2 separate regions of the Homo sapiens genome follow, and region 1 is reported to be linked to region 2. Evidence: microRNA targets listed by miRTarBase, many of them from high-throughput screens and not tested one by one. Region 2 holds a microRNA gene; the other region holds the end of a gene's coding sequence.

What was found. Region 2 holds the annotated microRNA hsa-miR-6826-5p (UCAAUAGGAAAGAGGUGGGACCU, at 3,698-3,720, shown strand). A microRNA usually pairs through its seed, bases 2 to 8, with sites in the 3' UTR of a target mRNA and lowers its output. Matches are read on the target gene's strand: a 7mer-m8 pairs with bases 2 to 8, a 7mer-A1 pairs with bases 2 to 7 and ends in A, and an 8mer does both.
Region 1: the mRNA of ZNF567 is a reported target of hsa-miR-6826-5p. Seed matches in the 3' UTR shown: 8mer at 1,562-1,569.

What each region holds. Positions count from the first base shown.
Region 1 is chr19:36,719,703-36,724,761 of GRCh38, forward strand. ZNF567 (zinc finger protein 567) reads left to right here. Exons shown (of 6, transcript NM_001322917.1): 6 at 1-1,634. The coding sequence ends at 966. Among named protein-coding and RNA genes, the nearest start is that of ZNF567, 35 kb to the left of the region's middle.
Region 2 is chr3:129,268,454-129,273,525 of GRCh38, forward strand. MIR6826 (microRNA 6826) reads left to right here and starts at 3,693; the gene lies at 3,693-3,790. COPG1 (coat protein complex I subunit gamma 1) reads left to right here. Exons shown (of 24, transcript NM_016128.4): 17 at 42-167; 18 at 479-547; 19 at 3,314-3,456; 20 at 3,791-3,962; 21 at 4,354-4,451.

The DNA of each region.
Region 1 (5,059 bases), not on the chromosome of region 2:
CATCAGAGAACACACACAGGGGAGAAATCGTATGAATGTCTGCAATGTAGGAATGCCTTCAGATTGAAGTCACACCTCATTCGTCATCAGAGAACTCACACGGGAGAGAAACCATATGAGTGTAATGACTGTGGGAAGTCCTTCCGCCAGAAGACAACACTCTCTCTACATCAGAGAATCCATACAGGTGAGAAACCCTACATTTGTAAAGAATGTGGGAAGTCCTTTCACCAGAAGGCAAATCTTACTGTACATCAGAGAACTCATACAGGGGAAAAGCCCTATATTTGTAATGAATGTGGGAAATCCTTCTCCCAGAAGACAACCCTTGCTCTTCATGAGAAAACTCATAATGAGGAGAAACCCTATATTTGTAGTGAATGTGGAAAGTCCTTCCGCCAGAAGACAACCCTTGTAGCACATCAGAGAACACATACAGGGGAGAAATCTTATGAATGTCCTCACTGTGGGAAGGCCTTTAGAATGAAGTCATACCTCATTGATCATCACCGAACTCACACAGGAGAGAAACCATATGAATGTAATGAATGTGGTAAATCATTCAGTCAAAAGACAAATCTCAATCTACATCAGAGAATTCATACAGGGGAGAAACCCTATGTTTGTAATGAATGTGGGAAGTCCTTTCGCCAGAAAGCAACCCTCACTGTACATCAGAAAATACATACCGGCCAGAAATCCTATGAATGTCCTCAGTGTGGGAAAGCCTTTAGCAGGAAGTCATATCTCATTCATCATCAAAGAACTCATACGGGAGAGAAACCATATAAATGTAGTGAATGTGGAAAGTGCTTCCGCCAGAAGACAAATCTTATTGTACATCAGAGAACTCACACAGGTGAGAAACCCTATGTTTGTAATGAGTGTGGTAAGTCTTTCAGTTATAAGAGAAACCTCATTGTCCATCAAAGAACTCACAAGGGAGAAAACATTGAAATGCAATAAATGATGTGGTTTCTTATATGAATTCTTTACAAGCTGTTGTAAACATTTAGTTTTAAAAAGAAAAGCATGCTGAAACATGTTAATGTAATTTTAAATCACAAGTCTAATAATTATTAAAGTACCATACGGAATAACTGTCTACTGTTTACTAGCATATAAAATAAGTATGATCATTATTATTGAACTCTATCAGCTATGAAGCTAAATTTTAAAGTCAACTGCTCTTCCTACTGACTCAAATAGTTTATTTTTTAAAAATACTTATATAATACATGCAGAGACAAGATACACAATGATTATAAGTATTAATCTCCATAAGAGAAAATATTTATGAACTATATTTCTCATTGCACTCTGTAATAAAAAGCAGTTAGTTGTTACTTACCTAAGAGTTACCACTTCCGTAGCCTATAACATCAAAACGTAGTTTTTGCATGTTTTCAATTTTATAAATATATATTTTATCAGACATCATGAATTATTTTGTGTCTTGCTTATTTCACTCAATTTTTTAAGATCTGTACATTATTGCATGTGGCAGTAGTGTATTTTCATTTTGCATACTATTCCATTTTAAGAATATATTGCTGTTTATCCTATTGATGGATATTTGTATTTTTTATACTTTTGTGTAATAATAAAAATACTGCTGTAAATATTCTTGTTTATATCATGTGTGTGTTTGCGTGTATGTATTTCTGTTGAATTTATACCTGGGACTGGACTTATTCATTCCAAGAGTATATATGAGGTTTTTTTGGTCATTCAGACTGGAGAATTTCTACTAAAAAGAAACCTTGCGGCTTTATAATTGTGAGAAGGCTATTAATAAATCATGGACATGTGAATGCAGTATATGTAGAAGGCCTTTAGCTGTCTCTCAATGCTTAAATGCAAAACAAGCAAATTCGTATTGGAGGGAAATCTTGTAGTTGTCATGATTTTAGGGGTACTTTAGCCATAGCTTATTACACCTTATTTAATATCAAGGAATTAGAATTCATACAAGAGAAAGGGACATTGAGAAGGGAAATAGGTGAGGAAAATTTGAGAGTACCAGAGTCTTTTTTTTTTTCTTTTTTTTTTTTTTTTTTGAGACAGAGTCTCGCTCTGTTGCCCAGGCTGGAATGCAGTGGAGCGATCTCGGCTCACTGCAACCTCTGCCTCCTGGGTTCAAGTGCTTCTCCTGCCTCAGCCTTCTGAGTAGCTGGGATTACAGGCATGTGCCATCACGCCCAGCTAATTTTTGTATTTTTAGTAGAGACGGGGTTTCACCACGTTGGTCAGACTGGTCTCGAACTCCTGACTTCATGATCCGCCTGCCTCGGCCTCCCAAAGTGCTGGGATTACAGGGTGACCCACCACGCCTGGCTACAACATAAGCCTTTTCTACCATAATCTATAAGAAATGTAAGTCTCTGAAAATCCCAAATAAGTGACTAGAGAGATTTTGATGTTTGAGAATTGGAAATCTGCGAAGACAGTGACTTCCACGGTATCCTTTTGGCGAGGAGAGTAAGCTCAGTGGCAACTTGAACAGCATTATTGCAGGTCCTTCTTGGGAAGGATTACTTATAACCAGTATTTACTATGTATATGAAGTCATTGTAATAAAATTCAGTAGAAATTGAAATTTATTAATTAATTTATTTTTTGAAATGGAGTCTCTATCGTCCAGGCTGGAGTGCAATGACATGGTCTCAACTCACTGTAACCTCTGCCTCCTGGGTTCAAACGATTCTCCTACCTCAGCCTCCCAAGTAGCTGGTACTACAGGCACGTGCCACCACACGCAGCTAATTTTTGTATTTTTAGTAGAGACAGGGTTTCACTGTGTTGGCCAGGCTGGTCTTGAACTCCTGACCTCGTGATCCATCCGCCTCAGCCTCCCAAAGTGCTGGGATTACAGGCGTGAGCCACCGTGCCCAGCCTGAAAATTGTTTTTTAAAAGATTTAGAACTGTAAACCATATCTGCATAAACAGAAAGATGGTTCAGGGTTCAAATATTTGACATTAAATATATTAAACAGACCCTCTGGCCTGTTAGAGAGGGACAGCCATTGCCAATCAGTAGTAAATGGAACCATTCTTGTCAATCCTTATTTTTCTGATAATTTCATAGCAAAAAATGAACAGGGCAATGAGACAAAAGCATAAAAATTTAGACTTGATAGTAGCACACAGAAAACACACGTGTGTGTATGTGTGTATATATGTAAAATGCCTTGTCTATAATGACTAGACATGTCATTAAATTTAGCCTTAATAATTTATATATGCATAAAGATTTTTTAAAGTATACATTTTTAAAGAATATAAAGAATTATTAATAGGTTTAATAAACCTATTAAAGTAACTAAAACAGGTAATTATAGGACTTATAATCAGAACTGTGAGAACCCAAGGATTTTGTCATTGTGAATTTATAGGGGAGTTATATACTAGTATATGCTAACAGTGGTGACTAACAGAAGAATTGTACTCATGACCAAAGATGGAAGCCTACCTTGTTTTTCTAGGTGGAGAGGATGGCCTAACTGGATGTTTATCCTAGCGTCAACCCACCAAAGATTTGGGGAACATGTGAGTCACATTCTCTGGGACATTCTACTCCCCTTTGATTTTGCATTTCCAGACATTTCAGTGGCTACCACAAAAAATAAAAAGTATCTGTGGCATCACTGCATGTGCTGCCCTGTCTCCTGATTTACTGATTATCATGAAATAGCCATGTACTGTTTCAGTAGAACATTGTATCCAATGTCCACTTTATTTTCAAACATACTACATATATTCATGTTTTATAGCTCTTGAATATGAAGAACTAGAAAGTATGAGATATTAACGGGCAGTTTTATAAATGGCCAAACTTTGAAACTTTTGAGGCTGGGCGTGGTGTCTCACACCTGTAATCCCAGCACTTTGGGAGGCCAAGGTGGGCAGATCACCTAAGGCCAGGAGTTTGAGACCAGCCTGGCCAAGAGTGAAACCCCCTCTCTACTAAAAATACAAAAATTAGCCAGGTGTGGTGGCGCATTCCTGTAATCCCAGCTACTCGGGGGCCTAAGGCAGGAGAATCACTTGAACCCAGTAGGTGGAGGTTGCAGTGAGCCAAGATGATGCCATTGCACGCCTGCCTGGCCAAGAGAGTGAGACTGTGTCTCAAAAAGAAAATATAATCATGAATATAATCATTATTATTTGTATAATAATTATTGGGCATCTTTCCATAATCATGCTCATAACTTTCAGTTTTAACATGTTCTTTGTATGAAAAACTGATGAGTTTCTTATGAAACTGTCTATGGCTGTATCATATGGCAATTCTGTATTTCTTTTTTTTTTTTTTTTTTTTTGAGACAGTTTCACTCTTATTGCCCAGGCTGGAGTGCAATGGTGCGATCTCGGCTCACCACAACCTCTGCCTCCTGGGTTCAAGCGATTCTCCCAGCTCAGTCTCCCGAGTAGCTGGGATTACAGGCATGTTCCCCCATGCCTGGCTAATTTTGTATTTTTAGTAGAGATAGGGTTTCTCCATGTTGGTCAGGCTGGTCTCGAACATCCGACTTCAGGTGATCCGCCCACCTCGGCCTCCCAAAGTGCTGGGATTACAGGCGTGAGCCACCGCACCCTGCTTTATTTAATTTTTTTAACAATCATCATTCTGTTTTCCACAGTGGCTTCACTATTTTACATTACCAATGGCAATGCAAAAAGGTTCAGATTTCTCAGGCCAGGTGTGGTGGCTCATGCCTGTAATCCCAGCACTTTCAGAGGCTGAGGCAGTCTGATCAATTGAGGTCAGAAGTTCAAGACCAGTCTGGCCAACATGGCGAAACCCCATCTCTACTAAAAATACAATAATTAGCAGGCATGGTGGCGTGTGCCTGTAATCCCAGCTACTCTGGAGGCTGAAGCAGGAGAATTGTTTGAACCAGGCAGGTGGACATTGTAGTGAGCCGAGATCACGCCACTGCACTCCAGCCTGCGCGAAAAAGCGAGACTTCATCTCAAAAAAAAAAAAAAAAATTAGCTGAGCTTGGTGGTGGGGTTCTATAATCCCAGCTACTTGGGAGGCTGAGGCAGGGGAAT
Region 2 (5,072 bases):
TGCTCTATCTGCCAGGCATGGTGACCTCTCTTCACCTCCAGGTCTGACTGTGTCCATCCCTGGTCTGGAGAGGGCTCTGCAGCAGTACACTCTAGAACCATCAGAAAAACCTTTTGACCTCAAGTCTGTGCCCCTGGCCACGGCGCCCATGGCAGAGCAGAGAACAGGTAACACTTATACTCCTCCCAGAGGCCATCAAGGCCAGGCCTCTGTTGGAGGGTCTGCATTGGCTGCAAAGCCACTAACCTAACTAGGGTGGGTGGCAGTTATGCTGGGAGGAGGAAATGATCTTTTCCACCTCTGGCTCCAGAAAATAGAGACACACATACACACAGACGTGGGCTCTCTCACATGTCTTCTGCTTCCCACTCTCAGGAGGGTTAGTATTTATAATCCCTGAGTAATAGCACTGGGGTCACCACCACACTGCCCCGTGACTCCAGCTGTTGGTCATCACGTGTATAATTTGCTCCTGCAGAAAGTACCCCCATCACAGCAGTCAAACAGCCTGAGAAAGTGGCAGCTACCAGGCAGGAGATCTTCCAGGGTGAGTCACAGTGGTTGGGGGATGCTTGGGACCTGGGCTTAGTTTCCTCAGGGGGTTCAAGAGTAAGAACTGTCATATATTGGTCTCTCCTGAGTGCTAGGCCCTTGAGATGCTTTAGACCTACTATCACATTTGACCCTCAGGTGGTGGTTGTTGGGTTCCTTCAATATCTGAGGAATTGGAAGTTCAGAGAGAGAAAGTAGTAGGAGGGGCTGGAATTAAGGTCCCGATCAAACTGGCTCAGTGCTGTTACTGGGCCTCAATTTGGAGGGCTCGGGTCCCTGGAGCCCAGGCCAGTTCAGAATGTCTGAGAGAGCAGTGCTGGGATTCAAAGACACTGGTACTTTTTGTCGGGTTCCACGTGTGTTCTGTCCACATTGTCTTGTAAGGTTTTCTTCAGGTATCCATCTGTCCTCTGGTGTTGCATTTTTAAGGGGAGAGGCTGTGTGTCTAATTGCAGATTGTTTTATCCACTGAATTCAGTAGATAAAAGCATAGACCCCTCTTCCTTCATGGGCCCTCACTTCCATCCTAGCTCTTCTGTCTTCTCTTAAACAGCCCTCTGTGCTAAATAGTTCTTCACATGTTCTGTCTTTTATTTTCTGCGTCTATCACAGCACTGAGCCCAGTGCCTTCCTTCCTCACAGTAGGCTCCCAATTAATGTTGAATTAAATGAAATCCCCCCTTCCCCATTACACTCAGAATCATGTCTTATATCAATATAGCATGGATCCTGAGCTAATTGGGATCGCTATAACATGAAACTTTCCATTTATATCAGTTTTCTATTGCTGCTGTAACACGTTACCACAAACTTAGTGGCTTAACACATTTATAACCTTATAGCTCTGCGGTCAGAAGTCCAAAGTGGGTTTCATTTGTTAGCAGTGCTGAGTTCTTTCAGGAGGCTCCAGGTATTGCCCCCTTGCCTTTTCCAGCTACTAGAGGTGGCCCGTATCCTTGGCTCGTGGCCCCTTCCACCGTCTTTAAGGGCCCTTCTAGGGCAGAAGGTCAGAGTAGAGTGATTTGAAGAGGCCACACTCCTGGCCTTTTCAAATCTCTCTACTCTGACCTTCTGCCCTAGAAGGGCCCTTATGATTACACTGGCCCCCCCTGGATAATCCAGGATAACCCCTAGCTCAAGATCCTTAATTTAATCACATCTACAAAGTCCCTTTTACCATGCAAGGTAACATAGCTGCAGGTTCTGGGAATTAGCATGTGGGCATCTTGGAGTCATTATTCTGCCACACCTTCCAAGGAAGTCTCCTAAGCCGCTTAAAGGGTAACAATTCCATTTTTAAACAATCATCCAAAAGCCTCACATTTACTAATCACATACATGTTCAGTTCCAAGAACTTTCCTAGATCTTGAATTTATTGCCTCATTTGTCTTTACAACAACGCTGTGATCAAGATAATGATATCAGTTTTATTGATGAAGAGTCTGAAACCCTACCAACAGAATCCCCCAGGGAGTAAGTATCAGGCCCAAAACTCTGAGTCCCAAGAAAATAAATATCAATAGAAAAGCACTCTAGTGGTTGATGGTCATGGTGGCCCAAAAGTTCCTCCTAATATCTAGCCTGGATTGTTCTGGGCTTTTTATTGCCTGCATATTCATTAGATTCAGTCTTCAGGCTGCAGAGGGCTGAAGTGGTCACATAGGCTGACTTTTTGTGGAGGAAAAAAGCAAAATAATAAAAATAAGGCCTACCTTTCTCTATGTCTGAAACGTGAATTGAGTACCTTCTAAGTAAAGGGAAAAATATCAGATCCATGGCCTCAAAGCACAATCCCTGTTCTCATGGAGTTCAATTAATTGGGAAGACAAGTTGAAAATCTTAGAGCAGTGGTCTTTAAATATCAGTATATATTGGAATAATCTGAGGAAACATGTTAGAAATGCAAATTCCTTGATCCTGAAACCAGAGATTCTGATGTAGTAGATTTGGGATGGAGTCTGAGTTTTTAGCAAGCTCTGCCGCCAACCCCTAGTAATTCTGATACAGTTGATCCATGGTCATAGTGCGAGGAATCCTGCCATAGAATAGGTACAAGAGTGGCAGCTGTAGCCATTATAGGTGGACACCATGTGCACACATCTGCCAGATGCCTCATTCACTTGGGTTATTCCCTTTAGTTTGCAAGGAATGCCAGGACCAGCCAGGGTGGGGTCCCATGGGCCTGTGCTTGAATCCAGTGCTTGAACCTGGGCATAGGGTGTAGGGATAGGTCTTACCAGACACAAACAATTCTAAGTTAGGTTTTCTGCAACACTCTCATTCTGAAATATCTCTTTATTGGCCATTTGTCTTAACTGATAAATATATAGGACCAGTTTGTTATTTTGTCTGATTTTGTAGCTATAGCAGTATCGATCTTATTTTCCTAATTGTCACCTTCTTTTAAGAATCCTTGCTGCGGTAGGGGGCGGAAATCCTTGCTAAGCTTCTATAGCTGGGGGATTCTCCAATTAGGTCTAGGATTTTGTGGTCTCATATCAGTTTTTTGCTTCTGAGGTCTTTCATGGTACAGAGATGGGGAGAGTATTTGTGGGGGGTTGTGCCACATGAGCGAAGTCAGGGAGATGAGAAAATGCATGGATATATTCAGGAAATAATGAGTAGCCAGTTGGGTAAACATATCTATCCATCTAAGGTAGGGTGGAACACCTTGAGAATGGTCATGGGAATTTATTAGAAACCATCAACAAGTTGGTCTGGGGATCGAGAAGCTGAGTGAATGTGGCCTGTGGATTTCAGAGCAGTTGGCAGCAGTGCCAGAGTTCCGCGGTCTTGGGCCCCTCTTCAAGTCCTCGCCTGAGCCCGTGGCCCTCACCGAGTCAGAGACGGAGTATGTCATCCGCTGCACCAAACACACCTTCACCAACCACATGGTTTTTCAGGTGAGCAAGGTGGGCTGAGGCCCTGCTGGGGCATGCGCCCAGGGAGTTGTCCCAGGTCTGGCAGGTCCTGTAGGGTCATGGGTCCCCACACTGCATTGGTTGGGAGCCCAACTTGATGACAGAATCTGTCCCCAACAGGTCGGTCTCTCATATCTCTTGACTCGGGACATCCATGGCTCCCGATTGTCAGCATGAAGACAGGGAACCTGGGGCAGGGGGACTGGGATGGGAATCACCTTGGTCAATAGGAAAGAGGTGGGACCTCCTGGCTTTTCCTCTGCAGCATGGCTCGGACCTAGTGCAATGTTTAAGCTCCCCTCTCTTTCCTGTTCAGTTTGACTGCACAAACACACTCAATGACCAGACCTTGGAGAATGTCACAGTGCAGATGGAGCCCACTGAGGCCTATGAGGTGCTCTGTTACGTGCCTGCCCGGAGCCTGCCCTACAACCAGCCCGGGACCTGCTACACACTGGTGGCACTGCCCAAAGAAGACCCCACAGCTGGTGAGCCCCTCTCCAGATACCACCCTATCCTCCTGGGAGCTCATGGGGTCAGGAGGAGGTGGGCGGCTGGGCACCAGCTGTTTGCCTTCTATTAGAGCTTCAGCTCCTTGATTTCAGTCCCAAGAAGAAGAATAGCTGAGTCCCAAGTGCTCTTCTTTAAAAATTTTTTTTTTTAAAGAGACAGGATCTCACTAGAACTCATGACTTTCCTGTCCTACAAGGTGGCACCCTCTGTCCAGCTTTGTGGGATTGGATGGCTTGTTGCTGCTACTAATAACATAGCAGGGGCCTAGAAAGCAGGCTGTGACCCCTGCCTGCTTGTCCCCTGCAGGAGGAGCCCATCCCCTGCAGGCTGGGGACATCCTAACTACCCAGCCTCTCTTCCCCACAGTGGCCTGCACATTCAGCTGCATGATGAAGTTCACTGTCAAGGACTGTGATCCCACCACTGGGGAGACTGATGACGAAGGCTATGAGGATGAGTATGTGGTAAGATCCTGGTGTCAGGAAGCTCAGTTTTGTGCTGAGGCTGCAAAGCAACTCCCTTCAGGAACTGACAGTGAGACTGGAGCTGTTTTTGGCTTTTTAGCTCTTTAAAATTTTATTTTTTTATTTTTATTTTTTGAGATGAAGTTTCTCTTTTGTTACCCAGGCTGGAGTGCAGTGGCGCGATCTCGGCTCACTGCAACCTCTGTCTCCCTGGTCCAAGCGATTCTCTTGCCTCAGCCTCCCAAGTAGCTGGGATTACAGGCGCCCACCACCATGCCTGCCAAATTTTTTGTATTTTTGGTAGAGATAGGGTTTCACCATGTTGGCTAGGCTGGTCGCGATCTCCTCACCTCAGGTGATCCACCTACCTTGGCCTCCCAAAGTGTTGGGATTACAGGCGTGAGCCACCGCGCCCGGCCTAAAATAACTTTTTAAACTTATGGAAATACATGTTCATGTGTAAAAAGAAAACTTGGGAAATACAAAAACAAAATTCAAAACAAAGTATGAACAACAGGAAAACATTACTCATAATCCTTAGAGTTATTTTTGGGGGGAAGTGGTATAATTGAAATCATTCTTACAGTGTAGACCTTGCTATTTTAAAACCATAGTGTATTT